Linked DNA regions of Homo sapiens. The protein of the gene in region 2 interacts with the protein of the main gene of each other region in a pairwise test. Each region holds a gene or a part of one and is shown on either strand. Other genes may lie near its edges. The genes, in order: SH3BP4 and GKAP1.

Region 1 (10,551 bases), on a different chromosome or scaffold from region 2:
TGTGAACCTCCATGCCTGGCCAAAACAAACCGCTTCTGATTCAAGAAACACCATGGAGACAGAGGATGATGGAGTGCGCGGGGCTGCAGAGAAGGACGTCCTGGAGAGACGGCATTTGAGCTGGCAGCTGAGGGAGATGAGGAGGTCTGGGAAAGGGAGCTCCAGGAAGAGGAACAGCATAGCATCTGCAGGAGCTGGAGGCCGGGCGAGCTGGGTGTGTTCAGGGCAGGGGTGCACAGAGCACAGTGGCCCCCAGGGTTGGGATGGGTAGGGCCAGATCTTACACGACTTTGTGGGGCAGGGGCAAAGGCTGACCCCGTTCTAAAGGCAGTGGAGAGAGGAACAACCCAGGTCTCATTTGACTCCTTTTTCCTTCCCATCTCCCTGCACACTGACTGTCTCAAACTCTCACATTTTCCCCATCATTTAAACACTGTTTCCAACCCAAGGCATCAGAACAAGGACACCGAAAGCTATGCTAAAAATGAGAGGCAGGGGGTGGCCTGGCTGTGACTCTCTGGGAGGGGCAGGTAAAGCGGTGGCAGAGGCCGCAGAAATCGTGGCAGCCCTGTGATGACAAGCGGAATAGAACAGCCAGTTTTCAGGGTCTCCTAATAAACGACCTGGGAGAAATCCGTCTGTGGTTTCTATAAGTTTGGCCAAGATGATGACTGACACAGGTGTGGGGGGCGGGTGGGGACACTGCAAAACCAGTTTCACTTTATCACCACAAAATCTAACCTTGCCTCAGGGAGCCGACCTGGCCAAGGGCAAGTTTCACTTCCTCCTTTCTGGGTAGCGGAAGGACTCGGGCACAGAGGACACACCCCTCCCTGGAGCGGACAGGGAGGCCCACCAAAAAATCCCCTCCCAGAGATGCTCACCAATCGAATTGAGAGAGTTTGATCATTTATGTCTTTTGGAAAAAGATAAAAAAGCAGGAAAATGAGTGTAAAAGCCACCTACTCGGCGGTTATTTTCCACAGCTGGTGTGGTACTCCTGGTTGTGTCATTTTTCCACCTCTGGTGCAACGTCGAGGTGAGTGTCCTGGGCTCAGCAATGCTGTCAGGTTCCACGACAGCATGCACAGCCACGGCTGTGGTCTCGGGGCCGCCCGCACAGAGGCTCTCACGGGATGGAGGCGCTTTGTCTGCCACTGTGCTGGGTGCACCCGTGAGGAGACCAGGCCACGGCCCGGCACCAGGTTCTGGAGAGCCAGGAGGTGTGCTCTGAATCACACATGGGTGATGGCTGATGGGAGGGACGCAGGCCATCCCCTCCCTGCAGGTGACCCCACATGGGGGCCCGGAGGCTTCCCTGCTGCGTTTGTTCGCTTCCTCCCCACCCAAGTGCAGTGATTTCCTGGTTGCCAAGGTGGCCCCCCTGACGGCCGCTTCCAGTTCCATCTCCCTCCCCTGGGCAATCTCGTGGCTCCATGCTTCTGGCACTGCACACGACTGCAGGCCACCCAGAGAGGGTCTCACCCGACTCCTGCCCCACTCCTGCCGGGCTGCGTCCCTTCTGTCTCCTGGCTCAACATGGGCAGCCGAGCCGGGTATGTGCCACATGTGACCCTTGCCTGCACACCTGTGTCTACAGGACACTCTGGGCTCTCCCAGACAAACAGGGCTCAATCCAGGGGAGCCGGGGAGGTGGCAGAAAGGCCGGGCACCAAGAAGCACGCCTCTCAGAAGCTAGGATGCAAGAAAGCCTGCGGGCTCAGAGGAACGAGGAAGAGCGGCACACGCCAAGGTCACAGGGTTTTCCCACAGGAATGAACACCAGCAATGCGCCCCTCTCCGGAGGATAGGGGTGGACTCCGTTCTATCACAGGGAGAAGTCCACAGGGACTCTCCACCACAAACACCCCTGGGGATGCCAGGACACGGATATGGCTAAGCCTAGCCAAGGTAACCGCCAGGACCCAGCTCTGCTGACGGTGGGGCTGCCTGCGGGGAGCAGTGCTAAGAAAGCGTTGAGCAAATGCTCCCCGGTTGGCTCGTGGGCCAGGGCGTAACCCACAGTCTGATGCTTACTTCCCCCTTTTATTTCTTTGGATTCCAGTTCACGGTTGTGCTGGCAAAACAAATGCTGTCCTCGCCCCAACTCAAACCAACACAGAGGGGGAAGTGGAAACAATACAGAGATGTTAGAAGCTTCAAGGAAGCAAAGGCAAGAAAAACTCACATTACAATGAACACAGGCTTTGGGGCAGCGGTTCGTGGGACTCTGGAGTCAGAGACCCTGTTGGGAATCTAACGAACCACATCTGCTCCCAAGAGATCTAAACTGAATGGCGAGAGCACAGGCCGCCTTCTGCCCCCACCCGCATCTGGTCCATTCTGGGACCCTCTTGGAGCTCACAGATTCGGTGGGAAAAGTAACTGGAATGCTCTTCTTTGCAGGGTCCTTGGGTTGTCTGGGGCCCCCCAGGATCCCCCGTAAACCCCATCTCCACTTCAAGCACACTTCAAGCCCCACACGTATATCCCAGGCAGCGGGACATCAGCCACAGACACTGTCCTGGTGACTTACAACACCACGGCCCACGCCCACGCATATTGGGAAGGCGAAAGGCTGTGCTGAGCCGCACCTATCTCAGGCAGCGGGACATCAGCCACAGACACTGTCCTGGTGACTTACAACACCACGGCCCACGCCCACGCATATTGGGAAGGCGAAAGGCTGTGCTGAGCCGCACCTATCTCAGGCAGCGGGACATCAGCCACAGACACTGTCCTGGTGACTTACAACACCACGGCCCACGCCCACGCATATTGGGAAGGCGAAAGGCTGTGCTGAGCCGCACCTATCTCAGGCAGCGGGACATCAGCCACAGACACTGTCCTGGTGACTTACAACACCACGGCCCACGCCCACGCATATTGGGAAGGCGAAAGGCTGTGCTGAGCCGCACCTATCTCAGGCAGCGGGACATCAGCCACAGACACTGTCCTGGTGACTTACGACACCACGGCCCACGCCCATGTGCACTGGGAAGGCGGAAAGGCTTTGCTGAGCAGCACCCCTGAACGCCCAGGCACCTGCTGAGCACTCACCATCACAAGCTCCTTCTGGAAGGACTTCCGTTCTTTGTTCTCAGTGTTGTTACAGTCCTCCTTCAGCTTTTCTAGGACGGACGCCACCCGCTCGGGCTCACTATCCAGCTCTGCCCGGCAGAAAAAGGTGAGCGGCAGGTTCACGTAGCCCAGGGCGTCAGCGAAGGAGCGCCAGCTGCTGATGTTCTCCATGAGCAGGGTCCTCACGGAGGCATAGATGTACGTGAGGAATTTGCAGGGCCGCAGGATCTGCTCCAGCAGCACCGAGGTGCTCAGCTCGGGGCCCGAGCACAGGCTGGGCCGGGCCCTGCCGACCACCAGCACGTTCTTGGTGTGCACGAGGCCCACCCTGCCCTGGTAGTAGCCGATGTACCACTCCTTGGTCCACAGCTGGCCCCGGAGCCTGACCCGCTCCTCGCTGAGCAGGGCGATCCCGTCGCCCTTCTTGTACTCCAGCAGGTAGTGGTTCTTGTTCTGCCGCACCACAGTCTTGAGCAACTTACCAAACTTGAGGCTGGACACCGGGCGGTCCTGGAAAGTCGGGTACTTTGTAGTGGTGGCAAACGGGGACAGGATGATTTTCCCGACTTCGTTCTTCTTGAGAAACCTCCTTTGCCCGGAAGGCTTGATGGCACTTTTAGGGGGTGGCTGAGGAGTCTGGACACAAAACTGGGTGAGGATGGCCTCCTGGTCGTCCTTCACCTGAACCCGCAGCGTGAAGTCAGAGAGCTCGTTGGGGTTCTGGGAGGTGATGGGGAAGATCAGGCGGCTCACCTTGCCCAGCTTCAGCTGGAATCCTCGCACCACTTTGGCCTGCTCGCTGGCTTTGACCTCGTAATTCGTCATATTGGAAAACATACAGACCTTGAGATCCTGGGGCCTGGACAAAACGAACTGGTGCTTCCCCCACAGCTGCAGGGCCACCGGGGCAGGGTTGGGTGCCTGGCGTGTGACCTCGCTGACCAGGAGCGTCTTTGGGGCACAGTCATGCCCAAAAATGGTCACTACCGTCTTGAAGGATGGGTGGATGTGTTTAGGGCCGTAGAGACCCACTGTGACTTTTTTATTGATGAAGTCCCACACGGTGGAAGGGTAGAGGATGCTTGGGCCATGGGCCACGACAGCCACGTACATACAGGGCTCCAGGTTGTGCAGCTGTGCCTGGACCGTGTCCCCACAGCTGCAGTTGAGCGGGACGGAGACATATGGCCCTTCCTTCGAGTCGCTCCTCAGGCACTGGAGGCCCACTGTGCTTTTGCTAAAAAGGTCATTTTTTATCTCGGCTGACACTTTCATCTCCAAGATGATAGAGGTTTTCACCTCCAGGTTGCTCAGCTTGACCTCCAGCACAGGGCTGATGCTGCAGGACCTGTCACTGTTGAGCTCCAGCGGGGGGTCCAGCAGGGCTTTCATGGAGATCTGCTGGGTCTCCCCAGGGGCGACGTGGCCCTCGGGCACGTGGATGCTGATGCTGGTGTCAGGAAGCTGGACAGCACCCCCGGAGCTATCCAGCTTGCACACGATGTTTGTCTCCACGGCTTGGGTCTGGCCCCAACCAGGGCTTTGGCCAAGCAAGTCCAGGTCGTGGCAAGACCGGGCCAGCTTCCTGTGGTTTAGCCAGGCAGTTCGAAAATCCTCCCGGCTCTGAAATTGCTCGGGGGCAGGTGATTTCAAGCCGGTGAAGAAACTCGACGATGTGGGAGCATCGGACTTGGCTTGGAGGACGGAGAGTTCCGAGAGACTGTAGGAGCGCTTGCTTCTGAAGAAGGGGTTGTCCCGCCTGACCGGCGGCTCTGCGTGGAGTCCGTTTGTGACTGGAAGCTCATCGAAGATGTTGCCAGTGCTATTCGTGGTGGCTGAGCTGGATTCGGTGAAGGAGGATGTACCTGCGTCAAAAAGGAGCAAATCCACAGTACTTTTGGGATTCAGCTCATCCAGGCTGGGCATGACGGGCACGTTCCCATTCAGAAATGGATTGGTCTGGACCCCATTCCAGAAAGGGTTATTACTGTACATTCTGCCTGGTACTTTTTTGTCATCTGTCCATCCCCCGAGCAGCTCCAGCTCCTTGGCTACCTCGTCTGGGCTGTCTGGAAGATTATCAATCATACCGCTGTCACTCAGTGTTGAGTTCCGGTAGTTCAAGGGCTGCACATAGGAGGAGGGGATGTAGCCCATTTCGGTGGTGTTGTGTGCGTACCACCACTCACCGCCAGATGTGTCCAAGACGTAGAGATGGTCGCCCTTGGAGAACTTCAGTGTGGTGAAGTTGGTGGGGCAATAGTCCTTGATCGCAATCACTTCCTTTGCATTTCCGAAAGGTGTGGGGTTGTCTACGAGCAAGGCACTGGGAGAAGGCACTGTGCAAAACACAAAGAAAACAGATGGTGAGGGCAAGGCCGGCGGGGTGTCCGGAGAGCTTCCCAAAGGAGAGAGGACGGTGGTAAACAGACAGGTGCACAATAACCCAGGCAAGTCACCAACAGAAACAAACCAAAGTGAAATTCAGTAGGTAATTTACCTGGCCAACGAACTGGTTCCTGCTACTTGGTCACCTTCAAAATCGACAGCCTATGTCCGGCAGAAAGACCACAGAGGAGCCTCTCCATCACTCACAGAAAGGCAAATCAGTGCAATGGAATATTTAACATGCCCTACGCCCTAAACATCTCATTTTGGGCAACGTTAAAATTCTTCTTAAAAGAACTGCTACTAGATACAAAGAGAAACTGAATGTGATTAACTTAGAAAACACGGTGACACGGTGAGTTAGGTGACCACTGCATGTGATCAGGGACTGGAAATGAACAGATTCCAAAAACTCCCGCAATGACATGTATGAGCTGATTCCAAGCTCTGCCTCTGGATGGAAAGCTTCCCTCAACCTGCTTCTTAAATTTCCAAACTCAACCTGTTCCTCACCAAACTGTTTCCTCAGATAAAGTAAGAATTCTGAAGTCAGTTCCTTCCAACCTCTTTTATTCTTATTTTACTTATTTATTTATTTATTTATGAGACAGTGTCTCACTCCGCCACCCAGGCTGGCATGTATTGACATGATCTCAGCTCACTGCAACCTCAGCCGCTCAGATTCAAGTGATTCTCCTGCCTCAGCCTCCAAAGTAGCTGAGATTACAGGTGTGTGCCACCATGCCTGGCTAATTTTTGTATTTTTAGTAGAAATGGGGTTTCATCATGTTGACCAGGCTGGTCTCAAACTCCTGACCTCAAGTGATCCTCCCGCCTCAGCCTCCCAAAATGATGGGATTACTGGTGTGAGCCACTGCGCCTGGCCCAACCTCTTTTAAATTATCATTCAAAATCACAACATGAAAACAGACTGTCTACATACCTTGAAAATGAGAGATTATGCCTAGTCATAGCTCATACTATCATTGAACAAGTGTTGAAGCAGTCTGAAAAATTCCAACCCTTCAAAAAGTGAATCAAGTTAATTCATGGCTCCTGCCATTGAACTCTGTATGTTACCAATGTAGACGGCAAATGAAACAGCAAAAATAAGTCAGCCAAACAAGTGGTGTGTTTTGAAAAATAATGGATATGATTAAATGAGAAGATATATTCAGAAGATGAAGAACACTCTTTCTGAAGAAAATAAGCACATATACTTCTCCCCAGGACTCCCCTCCCCCACCTCCCAAACTGCCTCACTTACGGAGTCTGCTGACATTCTGGCTTCCCGTAATAAACAATTGAAAGAAAGAAAGGAAACGTTTCTTTCTTTCTTTCTTTCTTTTTTTTTTTTAAGTTGCCAAAGCAAATGACCAAAGAAAGGAATCCGTTTTTAGTTAAACTAAACCTACATCTTTTCTAATGTGATGAAGTCCACAGTCATCGTATTCTATCAAATTGCCCCCCCGACCCCAGAAAATCACCTGCCAGTTTCCTTTTCCTTTGAAAGGAAATAATCACACTTCCTTGGGAAAGTGTTAGGAAATCAGGTAGACAGTTTCTATTCATTTACATTAACTGGGTTACAGAGATGCGCTTAGCTGGGAGCATCCCTGGGCCTTGAAGCCCCACCTACCTCCTCCTGTGAAATTACAGCAGGCCCGTCTATCTGGGTGTCTCAGAGAACCCGGCTCTGGGATCACTAAACCCAGACTCGAGTGGAGCCCTTAGAAACTGTGTGATCTCCAGAGCCTAAGACTCCACTCATGGTGGACAAAAAGTGTATTTCCTCAATGAGCTTTGGAGAGGACAAAATGCAAAGACGTAGATAAGGCACTTGTCATAATATTGCTTGACCCAACTTGAGGACACACAGGATGTTATGTGAAATAGACATCTCCTGGCCCCAATGTTATCTTTTTCCATAGCTCTTACCACCAACCACTACATCATGTACCTGATGAGGTTCAGAACATGCTACCCCAAAATATAGCACCACACATATTTTAAGCTGGAGGAATTTGAGAAACCGCAGGTGCAGGCAGGACTCCCTGCCTGCCCCCTGAAGCAGGTCATAGACCCTCAAGTGGGAGGGGCCCTCCCTATATGTGGGGGACAGAGCATCCTATCTCCAAGGACACAGGGAATCTGCAATGCCCAGGCCTTGCTGTCCTCCAGCTCATGACACTTGCTTATGCTTTTTCTTGTCCCATCTCATTTTTCCAGGACTCTCCACACCTCATCAAATCCCTCAGGTTTAATTACTTCTTTAAGTCTTCATTTCCTTATGAAGAAATTATATATCTGTAATATACATATAACATATATTAAGTAAGTTTGCATGCTTTTCTCTTATTAATGTCTTTTGTTATAGGGGCCCAAGCCAAGAACTAAGAATTTTTCCTTCTCTACATACCTCATATATATATATATATATATATATATATATATATATATATGTATATATATTATATATATATATATAAAATATATATACTATATATAATATATATATAATATATAATATATATATATAATATATATATTATATATAATATATATTATATATAATATATATTATATATAATATATATATAAAATACATATATCCTTTATATATATATTATATATATGTGTATATATATATGAAATATGTGTATGTGTGTGTGTATGTGTGTTTCTTTTGCAGGAGGAGCCTCCATCTCCCCATTAGGGTATCAGCACCATTAGAGCCTGTTTTGTTTGCTGTTGTATCCCTGGGCCTCGTACAAGGCCTGGCGCGTAGCGGGGACTCAATGAGTATTTGTGGAATGAATGATCATCGTGCATGCGTAAACGACACAGAGAAGCCATAATCTATGCTATTGGATCCTGGTGTTGGTGAAAGCAGTGTCTGAATTCCCCCTGGCTGTGCCCTTGTGCTCTAAAAAAATCATAAAACCAACAAATTATTTAATATGAGATGGGAGTGAACCAAAACCTGTGAAAGAAAATGGCTTTCATGGAGAGGTGGGAAGAATTGATGTGGGTCAGGCTGAGGCCAGAGGATACAGAAGCTCTTCTCTCTCATTTCTGTTTTGCTAGTCATGATCTCCAGGAATATAAACCATTTTATCTCCTTGACACAATCTACTGGAAATGTCACATAAAGATGAAAACTAAATGAAAATTAAATAGAGCTTGCCGGCCATCAAAATCTTGCTAGAATCCCTCAAAGGTTATGTCCTTATTATGCTCCCTCAGAATAATTCCCTTACAGTAGTTTCAAAATTAAGAAACCAAAGCAATCAAGAATGCTTTGTGCATAGCCTAGAATGTATCAATGAGAATTATCATTCAGTTTTATCCAACTGAAGAATAAGAATGGTTTTACTTAAAATTCCCAGCACTCTCCTTGGAAGAGAAATGGTCACAGATCTCACTCAAGGGATCAGGCTTAGCCAAGGGAAATCACCCCACTCTTCCTTTCCAGAACCCTAGGGAGGTGGACTGTTGTGTGATTCCCCCTTCTAGATGAGGCCCTCCATCAGTCAACTGCCACCAAGCAGCTGGGGACACTGGGGAAGGGCTTCCATCCCATCAAATGCCAGAGAATCCCTAACGAATTCTATCTTAATGAATTCTGAGGAGTGTTACCCAGATTCACAGCCACCTTGATTTTAATACAAAAATCTCCCTGGGTGTTAGGAAGTTCAATGTACTGAATAATACATTTCCTATCCGTCTGCCTACGTTCTTCTGCAGGCAAAACATTCATCAGAGTAGAAGGTTTCATGGCAGATACTTTGGCTGAAATAAATTCCCACCTTGAAGTCTGTCTATCACTGGGATGTGCGTGAAGCTTCTGGCTAGCAAACTGCCTGGGTCACATGTGGCGCCTCGGAGGTAGATTCCCCAGAATCTCTGGGCAAGGCCAGAGATCCCATGGTTCTGTCCACCTCAGATTCTCAAAACACCCTCCCCTTCATGTTTGAGGCTGTCCTCCTCCTCACGTTCAAGGCTGTCTTGTTTGTCTTCCTCCTCTAAATTAGGGATTCTTTTAGGGATAACAGCCAATATTTCCTCCAGAGCACTGTCATTATTATTATTATTATTTTTTATATAGAGTCTCAGAGTGCAGTGGTGTGATCTCGGCTCACTGCAACCTCTGCCTCCTGGGTTCAAGTGATTCTCCTGCCTCAGCCTCCTGAGTAGCTGGGATTACAGGCACGCTCCACCATGCCTGGCTAATTTTTTGTATTTTTAGTAGAGACGGGGTTTCACCATGTTGGCCAGGCTGGTCTCGAACTCCTGACCTCGTGATCCGCCTGCCTCGGCCTCCTAAAGTGCTGGGATTACAGGCGTGAGCCACCGCGCCCAGCCCACTGACATTTTTAAAAATTCACCTCACTTTAAGACTCTGCCCTCCTCACTTTAACACTCTGCCCAAATCACACAATTTATGCTCACAAGTTCCAGCTTTGACTCTGATGAGTTGGGCTATAAAGTAAAAAACAAAATGTCCATTAACAGAATCTGAAAAATAAATGCTTCAGTTATTTATGGCAACACCCAATCACTGTTGCTCTCTTACAAATAAAATCTCACACGGGCTAGACGTTTCTTTTAAAGAACATTTACAGCAATGCCCAGGGATGCCAGCATCAATCAGAGGCAGGGAGAAGATGTTTGGGATAAAGGGGAAGGAGAAGCTACTCAATTAGACAGACATAAACACAGTGCATATAATTTTTGTACATCAGGGTAGAGGATTACAACTTTATCTGGGGGATAGCAGTTTAGTTCAAGAAACATTTACTTAGCACTGACTTTAGGCTGGGGCCGAGGATACAAATGGTCAAAGTCAAGTTCCTACTTTTCAGCTGTGCTCCAGGCAAGACAGTTTCAACAGCTAAGAGAAAGCCAAGGGATGATGATATTGATGATGATGGTGCTGTCACCGCAACTGCCAAGCCCCAAAGGAGCATGTGAGAGAGACTGAACGTGGCCTAGGTTAGGGCAGATGTGCAGGAAGAAAATGACCTGCTAGTATTCACCTTGGTGTCCAAAAGATAGGTTTTCTCATGAACTCAATTTTAC
Region 2 (11,448 bases):
TGGGAGGCTGAGGGTGGAGGATAATTTGAGCCAGGAGTTTGAGGCTGCAGTGAACTGTGATTGCACCACTGTACTCCAGTCTGGTTAACAGAGTGAGACCCTCTCTAAAAATAATACAAATTTAACAAGTTTTTCATAGATGGGGTATCTCTGTGTTGCACAGGCTGACCTCAAACTCCTGGCCTCAAATGATCCTCCTGCCTGTGTAAATTAGTTCAACCATTGTGGAGGACAATGTGGCAATTCCTCAAGGATCTAGAACTAGATATACCATTTGACCCAGCAATCCCATTATTGGGTATATACCCAGAGGATTATAAATCATGCTACTATAAAGACACACAAACATGTATGTTTATTGTGGCATTATTCACGATAGCAAAGACTTAGAATCAACCCAAATGTCTATCAGTGATAGACTGGATTAAGAAAATGTGGCACATATACACCATGGAATACTATGCAGCCATAAAAAGGATGAGTTCATGTCCTTTGCAGGGACATGAATGAAGTTGGAAACCATCATTCTCAGCAAACTATCACAAGGACAGAAAACCAAACACTGCACGTTCTCACTCATAGATGGGAATTGAACAATGAGAACATTTGGACACAGGGCGAGGAACATCACACACTGGCACCTGTGGGGAGGGATAGCATTCGGAGGTATACCTAATGTAAATGACGAGTTGATGGGTGCAGCAAACCAACATGGCACATGTATACCTATGTATCAAACCTGCACATTGTGCACATGTACCCTAAACTTAAAGTATAATAATAATAATAATAATAAAGATCCTCCTGCCTCAGCCTCCCAAGTAGCTGGGACTACAGGCATGAGCCATGATGCCCAGATATCACCTCATTCTTAAATGTGGTGAACAGTTGATGATCTCCATTTATTTGAAGAAACCTCCTTACATAAAAGACAGAATCTACAATGAACAAACAAGAAAAGAAAAAAAAGCTTTAGAGGCCAGTTGTGGTGTAATCCCTGCACTTTGGGAGGCCAAGGTGGGTGGGTCACCAGAGGTCAGGAGTTCGAGACCAGCCTGGCCAACATGGTGAAACCCCATCTCTACTAAAAATACAAAAAAGTAGCTGCGCGTGGTGGCACACACTTGTAATCCCAGCTACTTGGGAGGCTGAAGCCGGAGAATTGCTTGAACACAGGAGGCAGAGGTTGCAGTGAGCTGAGGTCATGCCACTACACTCCAGCCTGGGAAACGAGTGAAACTCCGTCTCTAAAAAGAAAAAAAAAAAAAGAAATTGGAGGAAATAAAAGCAGTACAGAAAGCCAGAAAACATGTCAAAATCAAGAAATTCTCAAAAATTTTAACTTCCATATACTCTTCTCACTCAGGAAACTGCTGGAAGGAGCACTCCATCCAAGTAAAGGCGTATATCAAGAAACAGAAAAACATGTGGCTGGGCACAGTGGCTCACACCTGTAATCTCAGAACTTTGGGAGGCTGAGGCAGGTGGATCACTTTAGGCCAGAAGTTTGAGACCAGCCTGGCCAATATGGTGAAACCTCATGTTTACCAAAAATACAAAAAAAAAAAAAAAATAGCCGATATGGTGGCACATGCCTGTAATCCCAACTACTTGAGAGGTGGAGGCAGGAGAATCACTTGAACCTGAGAGGCGGAGGCTGCAGTGAGCTGAGATTATGCCTCTGTACTCCAGCCTGGGTGACAGAGTGAGAGTCCGTCTCAAAAAAGAGAAAAAGAGAAACAGAAAAACATGGGATCTGGTAAACCAGAACTCCAACAAAGCAGAAAACAAAGAGAATTCTCTAGACAAGCTTTTCCAACCTGTGGTGTGTGGCCCAGGATGACTTTGAATGTGGCCCATCACAAATTTGTAAACTTTCTTAAAACATACTTTTTTGTGATTTTTTTTTAGCTCATCAGCTATTGTTAGTGTATTTTATTGTGGTCCAAGACAATTCTTCTTCCAGTGTGGCCCAGGAAAGCCAAAAGATTGGACACTCCTGCCCTAGATGAAGGTGATGGGAGGTTCCAGGAAGTCAGCTGTGTAGCAGGCCTGGAGAGCACACTAGAGGATGGAAGTGTCTAGAAGGGATGTCTCCAAGAAAAGAAAATGGAAATGATGGATTACCTAATATGTCTGAAACTTTTGAACAAAATTTCACAACTCTGGTGGAAAATACGGAGATGTAATGGTGATAGATATAGAGAAAACTAAGCAACCACCAGGTGTGGTGGCTCACATCTGTAATCCCAACATTTTGGGAACTGAGGCAGGGGGATGGCTTGAGCTCAGGAGTTTTGAGACCAGGCCAGGCAACATTGTGAGACTTTGTCTCTACCTTAAGAAAAAAAAAAAAATTAGCCAGGAGTACTGGTGCACATCTGTAGTCCCAGCTACTCAGGAGGCTGAGGTGGGAGCCTGGGAGATTGAGGCTGCAGTGGGCTATCATCGCGTCACTGCACTCCAGCCTTAGTGAAAGAATGAGATCCAGTCTCAGAAAAATGAGAGAGAGAGAGATAAAACTAAGCAACTTAAGAAAGAAGGAAGAGCCAGGCGCAGTGGCTCATGCCTGTAATCCCAGCACTTTGGGAGGCCGAGGCAGGCAGAGCACGAGGTCGGGAGATCAAGACCATCCTGGCTAACACGGTGAAACCTGTCTCTACTAAAAATACAAAAAATTAGCCAGGTGTGGTGGTGGGCACCTGTAGTCCCAGCTACTCGGGAGGCTGAGGCAGGAGAATCGCTTGAACCAGGGAGGCGGAAGTTGCAGTGAGCCGAGACTGCACCACTGCACTCTGGTCTGGTTGACCGGGCAAGACTCCATCTCAAAAATAATAATAATTTTAATTTTTGTGCATACACAGTAGATGTATATATTTATGGGGTATATGAGATGTTCTGATACAAGCATGCAATGTGTAATAATCACATCATGTAAAACAGAGTATCTAGCTCTTTATAACCGAGGTTTTTAATGTAGATTTTGAACATTCACTGTGCATTGTTTGATGTGGCAGAGCTAGCATCTGTAGATGTATCTACTTGAAATACACGTTGGAGGTAGGACAGAGTAGTCTATGACAAGTTTTAAAGCACTGTCATTTAAATTGGAAAACCTGGCATGTGTCTGGTGTTTAATACAGACAGATGGGCATTTCCTGTAAAAGAAGGCAGTTACCATCGTAATTTGAGAGGTCAGAGAGAAGCAATTAGAAATCTCACTTTAGCAACATAAAACGTAAAAGCATCTGTTTAATGAAATGTGATATTTGCAAGAGTTTAACATATTAAACCACTGATGTCCCTGTGCAGCCTAATTTGAAGAATTCAACCCCTCACTCATAGATTAAAGATTTTAGTACTAGGGCTACTATCACTCTCTCCAAAACTACTCACTACTACAACACTACTGTGGAATCACTCTTGCGGTAATTCTTTGTGAGGGGTATGTGTATATATGTATGTATGTATGTATAACAGATATATATAACTATGTGGATGTTCATTTCAAAATCCTTACTGTGTCTCAATTCCTTGACCTCCCTTCAAAGGATCTCGTACCCTCTGGTACCTCAATTATCCATTCTCATATGCATTCCTTACACTGTAATATTACTGGTAACTACAGGTCCTCCTCTAATTTAATTCAAGCCTCCACTCTCCAACCACCTCTTATCGTTCCAAGGTCATTGCATATAGTAACTAAACTTCAACAATTCTTCAACCTCATCAAAAACACCAATTCAGTCACTCTACCGTCTTTCCACCATTCTTCACTCCTCTCATAGCTTTACTTCTTACCACTTCTGAAATTATAAGGCCTCCTTTGCCTCTATCAACACCAACTCTGCCCTTATCTTCCCCTTATACTTGCCTGGTCAAATCTCAGTCCTGGTTACTGCCAAAACTGCCTACTCAGTGCCTGCACATGAGCAACTGAATATGGCTAGAGAAAATTGCATAACCAAGTGGCTAGCCTCACTATAAATTCATGACCACTTATTCAATGGGGCTCTTAGTAATGCCTGGAAACTTTACCATGTTCTTTAGTCAGTTCACTCTCCCTCACTCATAAACTCTGATTTCACCTCCCTTCTCTCTTTTTTTCTCAATACTTTCCGTTAAGGACTACATTACCTAGAGTAGGCTAAACTGCTATAAAAAATAGACTGCAAAATGTTATGGCTCCAACTCAATAGAAATATATCTTGCTCACATAATTGGGTGTCCAGGTCAGTGGGTAGCTCTCCTTCATCCAGGCACCTTCTTTCTTGTGGCTCTGCCAACCCCAGAGGTTTGTGGTCATCTGCATAATTGAATCAGAGTCACCGTGTCCAGGGTCCAGCTGGCAGAAAGGAAAATGCATGAAAGAGGCACAAGTACTCTCAAAGTAAACGCCTTGGCCTGACAGTGGCAGACATAACATCTGCTCACGTTCTATAACTTAATACTTGACCATATGCAACTGAAAGAGAGGCTGAGAAAAGCAGTCTGTGTTTTCAGGGAGAAAGGGAGACTAAATTGTGATGGACAATTAGCAGTCTGCCAAAATGATCTTGCTCCTCACTTTGCTGAGAAAATAGAAGCAACTGGAAGAGAACTACTTTCTCCCACTGTCCAATCTATCTACTTATCTCGACATGTCCCATACACGTGGGAACTGGGGAAGATGGGATGGATCCCTAGACTAAACTTGACCAGAAAGGGGATCTTTCTTCCCAGGCTTTCAATAAGAACAATGTGGTCTCAAAGACCCTACTACCTAATCACAAAGTGCAAACATACCTTCTTTCCTTGTGCTTTTCAACCTCTGTGGTTTTGGATATTGTTGAGCAACACTCCTTCCAGCCCTGTTTTTGTGAAACTCCAATTTACCTTGTCTTGATGATTCTGCGTTACCCTATTCTCCTCCCATTTTCTGCTCCATCCCCTTTCTTTGCTGGCTTGGCTCACCTAGATCAGAGCTTCTCAAACTTTTTGATGTGACACAAATCTCTTCGGGTTCTTGTTAAGTTGAAGATGCTGGTTCAGCAGGTCTGGGGTGGAGCCTGAGATTCTGAGTTTCTAACTAACATCCTCATGTCAGTGCTGCTGGGCCACTGACCACGTTTTGAGTAGCGAGACTCTAAAGAGGGTGTTTTCCAAGATTCTGACCTTTGTTTTCTTCTTTTATCTCACAGCAATATCACTCCTAGGCTGATTATTTATGAGTCTATTTTCTAGTTCAGTCCTCTTTCCCATATTACAAAACCTTTATTTCTAACTTATTAGTGTCCATGTCTCTCTGGCTGTCTTGACAACCCTTTGAATTCTTAAAATGTCCAAATCTAAACTGATCTCTCAAGAAGTAGCTCCCTCTCCTTTGTAATTGTCTCTTTTCTCTCTTGCAATTATCTACAAACTCAAAACCTCCACTTTCTTTGATTTCTCTCTTCCTACCCACAATTAATCAATCAGTTGCCAAATTCTATAGATACTGCATGCACATCATCTCTCAACTATGCTCTTTTAAATTCCCCTAGCTGTCCCTTTAGGTCAGACTCATCATTTTTACCTGGCCTACAGTAGATCTGTCCGTTTTTCCACCTCTGATTTCTGCTTCCCCTCACAGATAAATCACTAGCACAAAGAAAAAAAAAAACCTTCCTTTTCTTCCCCCAAACTTCTGAACCATAAAAACTCAAAATACTGAATTAAATATAAATTCATCCATTTGGTATCTTAGGCCCCATACTCCTTTGTCTTTTCTACCTCTCAACATACCCTGGAGTCTTTGCTCTTTCCCCAACACAACTTTCACTGATTCGCCTTCATATATATTCTCATGCTATCCCTGCTTGCTGTAAAACTCTCCCTGTCTCCTTCAAGGTCAATCCCAAATGCCTACTCCTTCATGCTGCCTTTCTTTCCTTATCCCCAAGACAGATATACACGGTTCTTTGATTCCCGGCAGTACTCTGCCACTTTTCACGTGGCACCTATCATGGTTTGTCTTTTATTGTCTGTTTTATCTTTGTTTTATTCCTTACTTCTTTGAAGGCAAAGGTATCTTCAACTCCCCTCTAACTCTGAAGCATCTTACCTGTGGGGCGTCTAATATTAGTTGAATCATGGGGATTTATGGAGATAATGTGATGCGCTGGTAAGCTAACAGAATTGGAAGCCAGTACAGCTGGGTGCCGGCTCTGCCGTTTATTAGCTGTGAGGTTTTGGGTAAGTCACTTAACTTCGCCTGTAAAATTAGTCCACTACGACCTGATGGAGAACCAAGGGAGATAACGTTAAAGCGCCCTGCAACTCTACAGGGAACTGAGCAATGTTAGTTATTTTCCTTACAGAGATCTGATGCACTCTTGCTACTGGAATCTTGACTTGCAGGACCATCCCTACTTCATTGCCTGGAGGTCGAACCCCAAGTTGCAGGGAACCCAAGCTACCAGGTCCCACTGCCCTTTTCCACTCCAGGGCCCTCTAACCGCTCTCCGCGTCGCAGGTGATCCTGCCTTGCTGCGGGGGAGTGGCCTAGAGTCTCACTCCCTCGGGAGGCCTCCCTCCTTCCACCCGCTTGAGGAGAGCCCTTCTCTTCCCTGTGACCCCGAAGACCGTGGCGCCGCCGCCTACGTGAGGCGTTTGGACCCTGCCCGGCCCCCGTAGCTCCCCTTCTCCAGCAGGTGGTTCTGGTCCTCTCCCCCAACTCGGGCGCTCACGTCACCGGCGAACCTCTAACCAGCGCCAGCGCCGCTACCAACCGCGAAAATAAACAAACCCCCGCGCTCGGCGGACGCGCCAGGCCCCGCCCCCGCCCCCGCCCCCGCCCCGAGGCTCTCACGCCGCCTCCTCCGCCCGGGCTTCCCTCCACCCTCCGCCCGCCCGCCTGCTCTCAGCCGCGCTCTCCCCGCCCCTCACCGCAGCCTGCAGCCGCGCTCACCTCCGCGGTCCGCCCCGGCGCCCCGGGACCCGTTAGTGCCCAGCCTGTGGGCCGACCGCGACCCCCGCCCGGCGCGAGCCTGCCCCCAGCTCTGCCGACACTTGACCCAGACCAGTCCCAACGCCCAGTGCGGCCGCCCGGGGAGCCGCGGGAGAGGCGGCGGCGGGGGGAGGAGGGAGAGGAGGGCCGAGCCGGCGGCACGGGAGGCCCGGTGAGTACGCGGAGGCGGGCCCGCCTCGCGGGTGTCCGCTCCGGCACCCCGGAGGCGTAGGCAGCGGCTCGACAGCGCTCCCCTCGGCGCCCCGGCCTCGGGTGGCGGGGACTCGGCCTGAGGCGACGGGCCCCACTGACCGGAGCCGCTGGGCAGAGGGCACGGGAGGGCCGCGGCCCGACGCTCGGCGCAAGGCTCGGGGCGGCGGGGAGGGACTCGCACCCGACTCCCAGGCCGGCGACCGCTGAGCCTCCCGAGACCCCGTGGGGGCCGCTCGAGTGACAGGTGCCACCGTCCCCTCCCCGCCGCTGGCGCCCGCGCTCCCTCCCGGGGAGCCGGGCGCTCGGAAATTTCTGGAGCAACGACCTGACTCGTTTTCTCCCTTTCAGGTTTTGAAGCCGCTTCTCTGCCCGAGTTAGGTTTCGCCCAGCGCAATTTCTTTCTCTATGTACTTTGCGAATAAGTTTCGGAGCATCGGTTAACAGCCTATGGGTGAAATTTGGCTTTCATTCATGAATGAGGTATAGTGAATTACTTTTTGAATATAGTGCTCCTCCTCCTCCCCCGCCAGCTATTGAAAAGTGATTTTTTTTTCTGTTATTGTTTGGAACAGCCTTACCGAATTTTTGTCAGATCTCTAGCATTAAGGTGCTTCATAAATATTGAACAGTAACGACAAAAATAGTTTATCAAATTGGCTGATTGCCTTTTCTCTTCCTCCTCTTTTTCACTCTTTACCTTCGCCAGATTTTTCAGAGTAGATGCAAGTGCTTTCATTAGAAGAACTAATGAAAGATCGTCTGTCTTACACTAAAAAGCCGGAGACACTTTTCTTCACCATTTAGCATTGTCTGTTGTGTAGTAAATGTGCTTGGGATTGTAACTGGAATCATTTAATAAATGTGACTTGTAGCTATAAAAATATTTGAGAAGCTTTTTGGCAAATTAAAATATTAAAAATCTTCATAGAAGTCTAGATTTCTTTTCTCAACAGATTTATAACACTATAGTAGCTTCAATTCTGGAGTAAGAGCAAAACCCAGAAGTTGACCAAAAGAACCTTGTGTGAAAATAGATGTATTTTACTCGTGGGAGAATCCCTCAGGTCCTCACTGAGTACCTGCTTGTATTTTTTGTTTAACTTTCTTGGCCTGCAGAAAGTGGGAGCTGCAGATTGGAGAGGGATCTCAGTACTTAACTATGAGAAAAAAATGGAGTTTGGGGCATACCCATTGGGTTTACATCACTTACAGTAAGTGTGTTTGGAGCAGAGTTTTAGTATGCACTTCACACTTGCTGATTGTGAACCCTATTTTTTTTTTTTCTTGAGGCGGAATTTTGCTCTTGTTGCCCAGGCTGGAGTGTAATGGCGCGATCTCGGCTCACAGCACCTTCTGCCTTCCAGGTTCAAGCAGCTCTCCTGCCTCAGCCTCCTGAGTAGCTGGGATTACAGGCGCCTGGCTAATTTTTTTTTTTTTTTTTTTTGTATTTTTAATACAGACGGTGTTTCGCCTTGTTGGCCAGGCTGGTCTGGAACTCCTGACCTCGTGATCTGCCCACCTCTGCCTCCCAAAGTGCTGGGATTACAAGTGTGAGCCACCACACCTGGCCTGTGAACCCTAATTTTTAAGAAGCCAAAGTGAAAGATACTGTTTGGTTATCTGAAGAACAGAACATGAAATAACACAATTTTTTATTTCACCAGGTGTTAAATCAGTGATACTTGGTGCCATTTCATATTACGCTCAGTTAATTTCGATCTAAGTTATATTTCAGTGAGGCCACACTAATTGGCATCTACATTAATACCTTTTTTTGGTCAGGCTAATTGGTAGTGTTAATAGAAGATGGCTATCATTCATCTCATAAAAAGTAATATATTTGGTTGTTCTTGATTTAAGGATTTTATATGTATAATTGTGTGTGTGTGTGTGTGTGTGTGTTTTCTGAAGTTCCCTAATTGTGGTCTTCTGGACTGAGATATGGCTGCTGCTGTCTTGATTCTAGTGAGGTCATAGTGTAGAGGGATAAGGTCATAATGGCAATGTGCCTCCAAACCTTGATAGAGGCCAAGACTACCAGCCACTTAGGAATTCTTCTGCTTGGGTCGGGCTTGGTGGTGCATGCCTGTAATCCCAGCCCTTTGGGAGGCCGAGGCTGGAGGATTGCTTGAGCTCAGGAGTTTGAGATCAGCCTGGGCAACATAGTGAGACCCCATGTATACACAAAGAGAAAAAAAAAATTCTCCTGCTTGTAGCTTAGGCTATTCATTTTTAGAAGCAGTTTACTTAAGCAGCCAATGCATCCTAGTTCTCTTAAATTAACACTTTAGTTTTTCATTTTTTTGAGACAGTCTCTCGCTCTGTTGCCAGGCTGGAATGTGGTGGCGCAGTCTTGGCTCACTGCAACCTCTACCTCCCTGGTTCAAGCGATTCTCCTGCCTCAGCCTCCCGAGTAGCTGGGACTACAGGCGTGCGCCACCATGCCCAGCTAGTTTTTGTATTTTTAGTAGAGATGGGGTTTCACTACGTTGGCCAGGATGGTCTCGATCTCTTGACCTTGTGATCCACCCGCCTTGGCCTCCCAAAGTGCTGGGATTACAGGCGTGAGCCACCATGCCCGGCTGGCTTAAATCAACACTTTAAAACCAGATATGCTTCCTAGACAAAATTGGTTGTGGCAATTAGTTTGTTAGAATAGTACTTACCGTAATGAAACAACTTTGAACTGCTAATAATTGCTCATGCACATCTGCGTTATGGGAATTGAGGATTGTCTATTGTGCACTTCACATATTTCTTTTTCTACTTGTAGAGCACATTTTTCACTGCATAGACAGCTGTGTACTTGAAGAATGTAAACATGAAGAAAACACTAAGTTCAATAAATGTGTCTTCTATGTGCCAGATCCTGTGGTATTTGTAAGGGATAGAAACTCTTGTCTTTCAGGATCTTGAAATCAGGATCATAGGGGCTAGGCACAACAATAAAGAGAATTTTTTTGGAGTCCATTCAATAATAGTAAGTTTAAAGTATGGAAATATTACAGAGGAGGGAATGTTTAACTTCAGGAACAGGTCAGAGAACGCTTCATAGATATGCTAGCACCTGAGCAGGATTTTGAGGAATAAATGGAAGTTTTCAGTGGAAGAGATAGATGGCATTGTAGACAAAAGAGAACAGCATAGTTAAAGATATGAACAAGTAAACTAATTGTGTGTTCAAGAAATTTCAAGTTGTTTTTTCTTGGAGTACATGCAAAATCTGAAGAAAGAGGGTTGCTAGAGAAAGCCCTAACGCATGCTATTACATTTAATAAGTCAAATAATTGGCTTTTTGGGTATGAAGTATATGTAAAATAAAGACTTTGTTATATTTTTGACATTGCTGCCATCTTTTTTTTTTCTTTTTCTTCTTTGACAAAGGGTCTCAGGCTGTAACCCAAGGTGTAGTGCAGTGGCACAATCACTGCTCACTACAGCCTCGACCCCCAGGCTCAGGTGATCCTACCACCTTAGCCTCCCAAGTAGCTGGGACCACAGTCATGCACCACTATGCCTGCTAACTGTTGTACATTTTGTAGAGAAGGGGTTTTGCCATGTTTCCCTAGCTGATCTTGAACTCCTGGGCTCAAGCAATCTGCCCACCTCAGCCCTTCCAAAGTACCAGGATTACAGGTGTGAACCACCATGTGTGGCCTGCTGCCATCTTAAGTATAAATTAATAGTTTGTACTAGTGGTAGTCATTACATTATGGAAGATAGTAGAAGATATATTTATTTATGGTGAACTGCCTGCATATTGAGAATGTGTGTTTATTTCACATTTTGCCCTGAAACATTTCTGTTTTTAAAATTATCGTGTGAATTTATTTTGTCTTCCTTCAACTATACATTATCCTTGAAATTAGTTTTATCATTTATTTTATGAGATACGGTTTTGCTATGTTGCCTGGGCTGGTCCCAAACTCCTGGACTTAAGTGATCTCCTGCTTCAGTCTCCCAAGTTGCTGAAATTACAGGTGTGCACCACTGAGCCCAGATATCCTTGAAATTATTTTTAAAAGGAACTCAAAGGGAGGAGGGGAAAAATATAAATAAAATAATCATTAGATTTCTGCACCAAAAACCTGATTTGTGTAGTAGTTTAATAATATGTAAATGTTTAATATACAGTATTAGCCACCATATTCATAGACTAATTTAAGTAACTTAATTGGCAGTCCATTGTATTTTCATTTGCATTGTATGGCTTAATTATATTATGTGTATATAAATGTCTAAGCATAGAAGCATCTAAATTTTAAAGA

What was found.
Region 1: the proteins of GKAP1 (region 2) and SH3BP4 interact in a two-hybrid assay, tested with the Homo sapiens proteins (one study listed by BioGRID and IntAct).

The regions. Positions count from the first base shown.
Region 1 is NC_000002.12:235,035,757-235,046,307, reverse strand, and holds part of SH3BP4 (SH3 domain-binding protein 4), read right to left. Parts: intron 5,421-10,551; coding exon 3,061-5,420; intron 1-3,060. UniProt on the Homo sapiens protein: May function in transferrin receptor internalization at the plasma membrane through a cargo-specific control of clathrin-mediated endocytosis.
Region 2 is NC_000009.12:83,813,208-83,824,655, reverse strand, and holds the start of GKAP1 (G kinase-anchoring protein 1), read left to right. Parts: upstream 1-6,886; 5' UTR 6,887-7,139; intron 7,140-7,172; exon of another isoform or gene 7,173-7,424; intron 7,425-7,528; 5' UTR 7,529-7,660; intron 7,661-8,639; exon of another isoform or gene 8,640-8,730; intron 8,731-11,448. UniProt on the Homo sapiens protein: Regulates insulin-dependent IRS1 tyrosine phosphorylation in adipocytes by modulating the availability of IRS1 to IR tyrosine kinase. Its association with IRS1 is required for insulin-induced translocation of SLC2A4 to the cell membrane.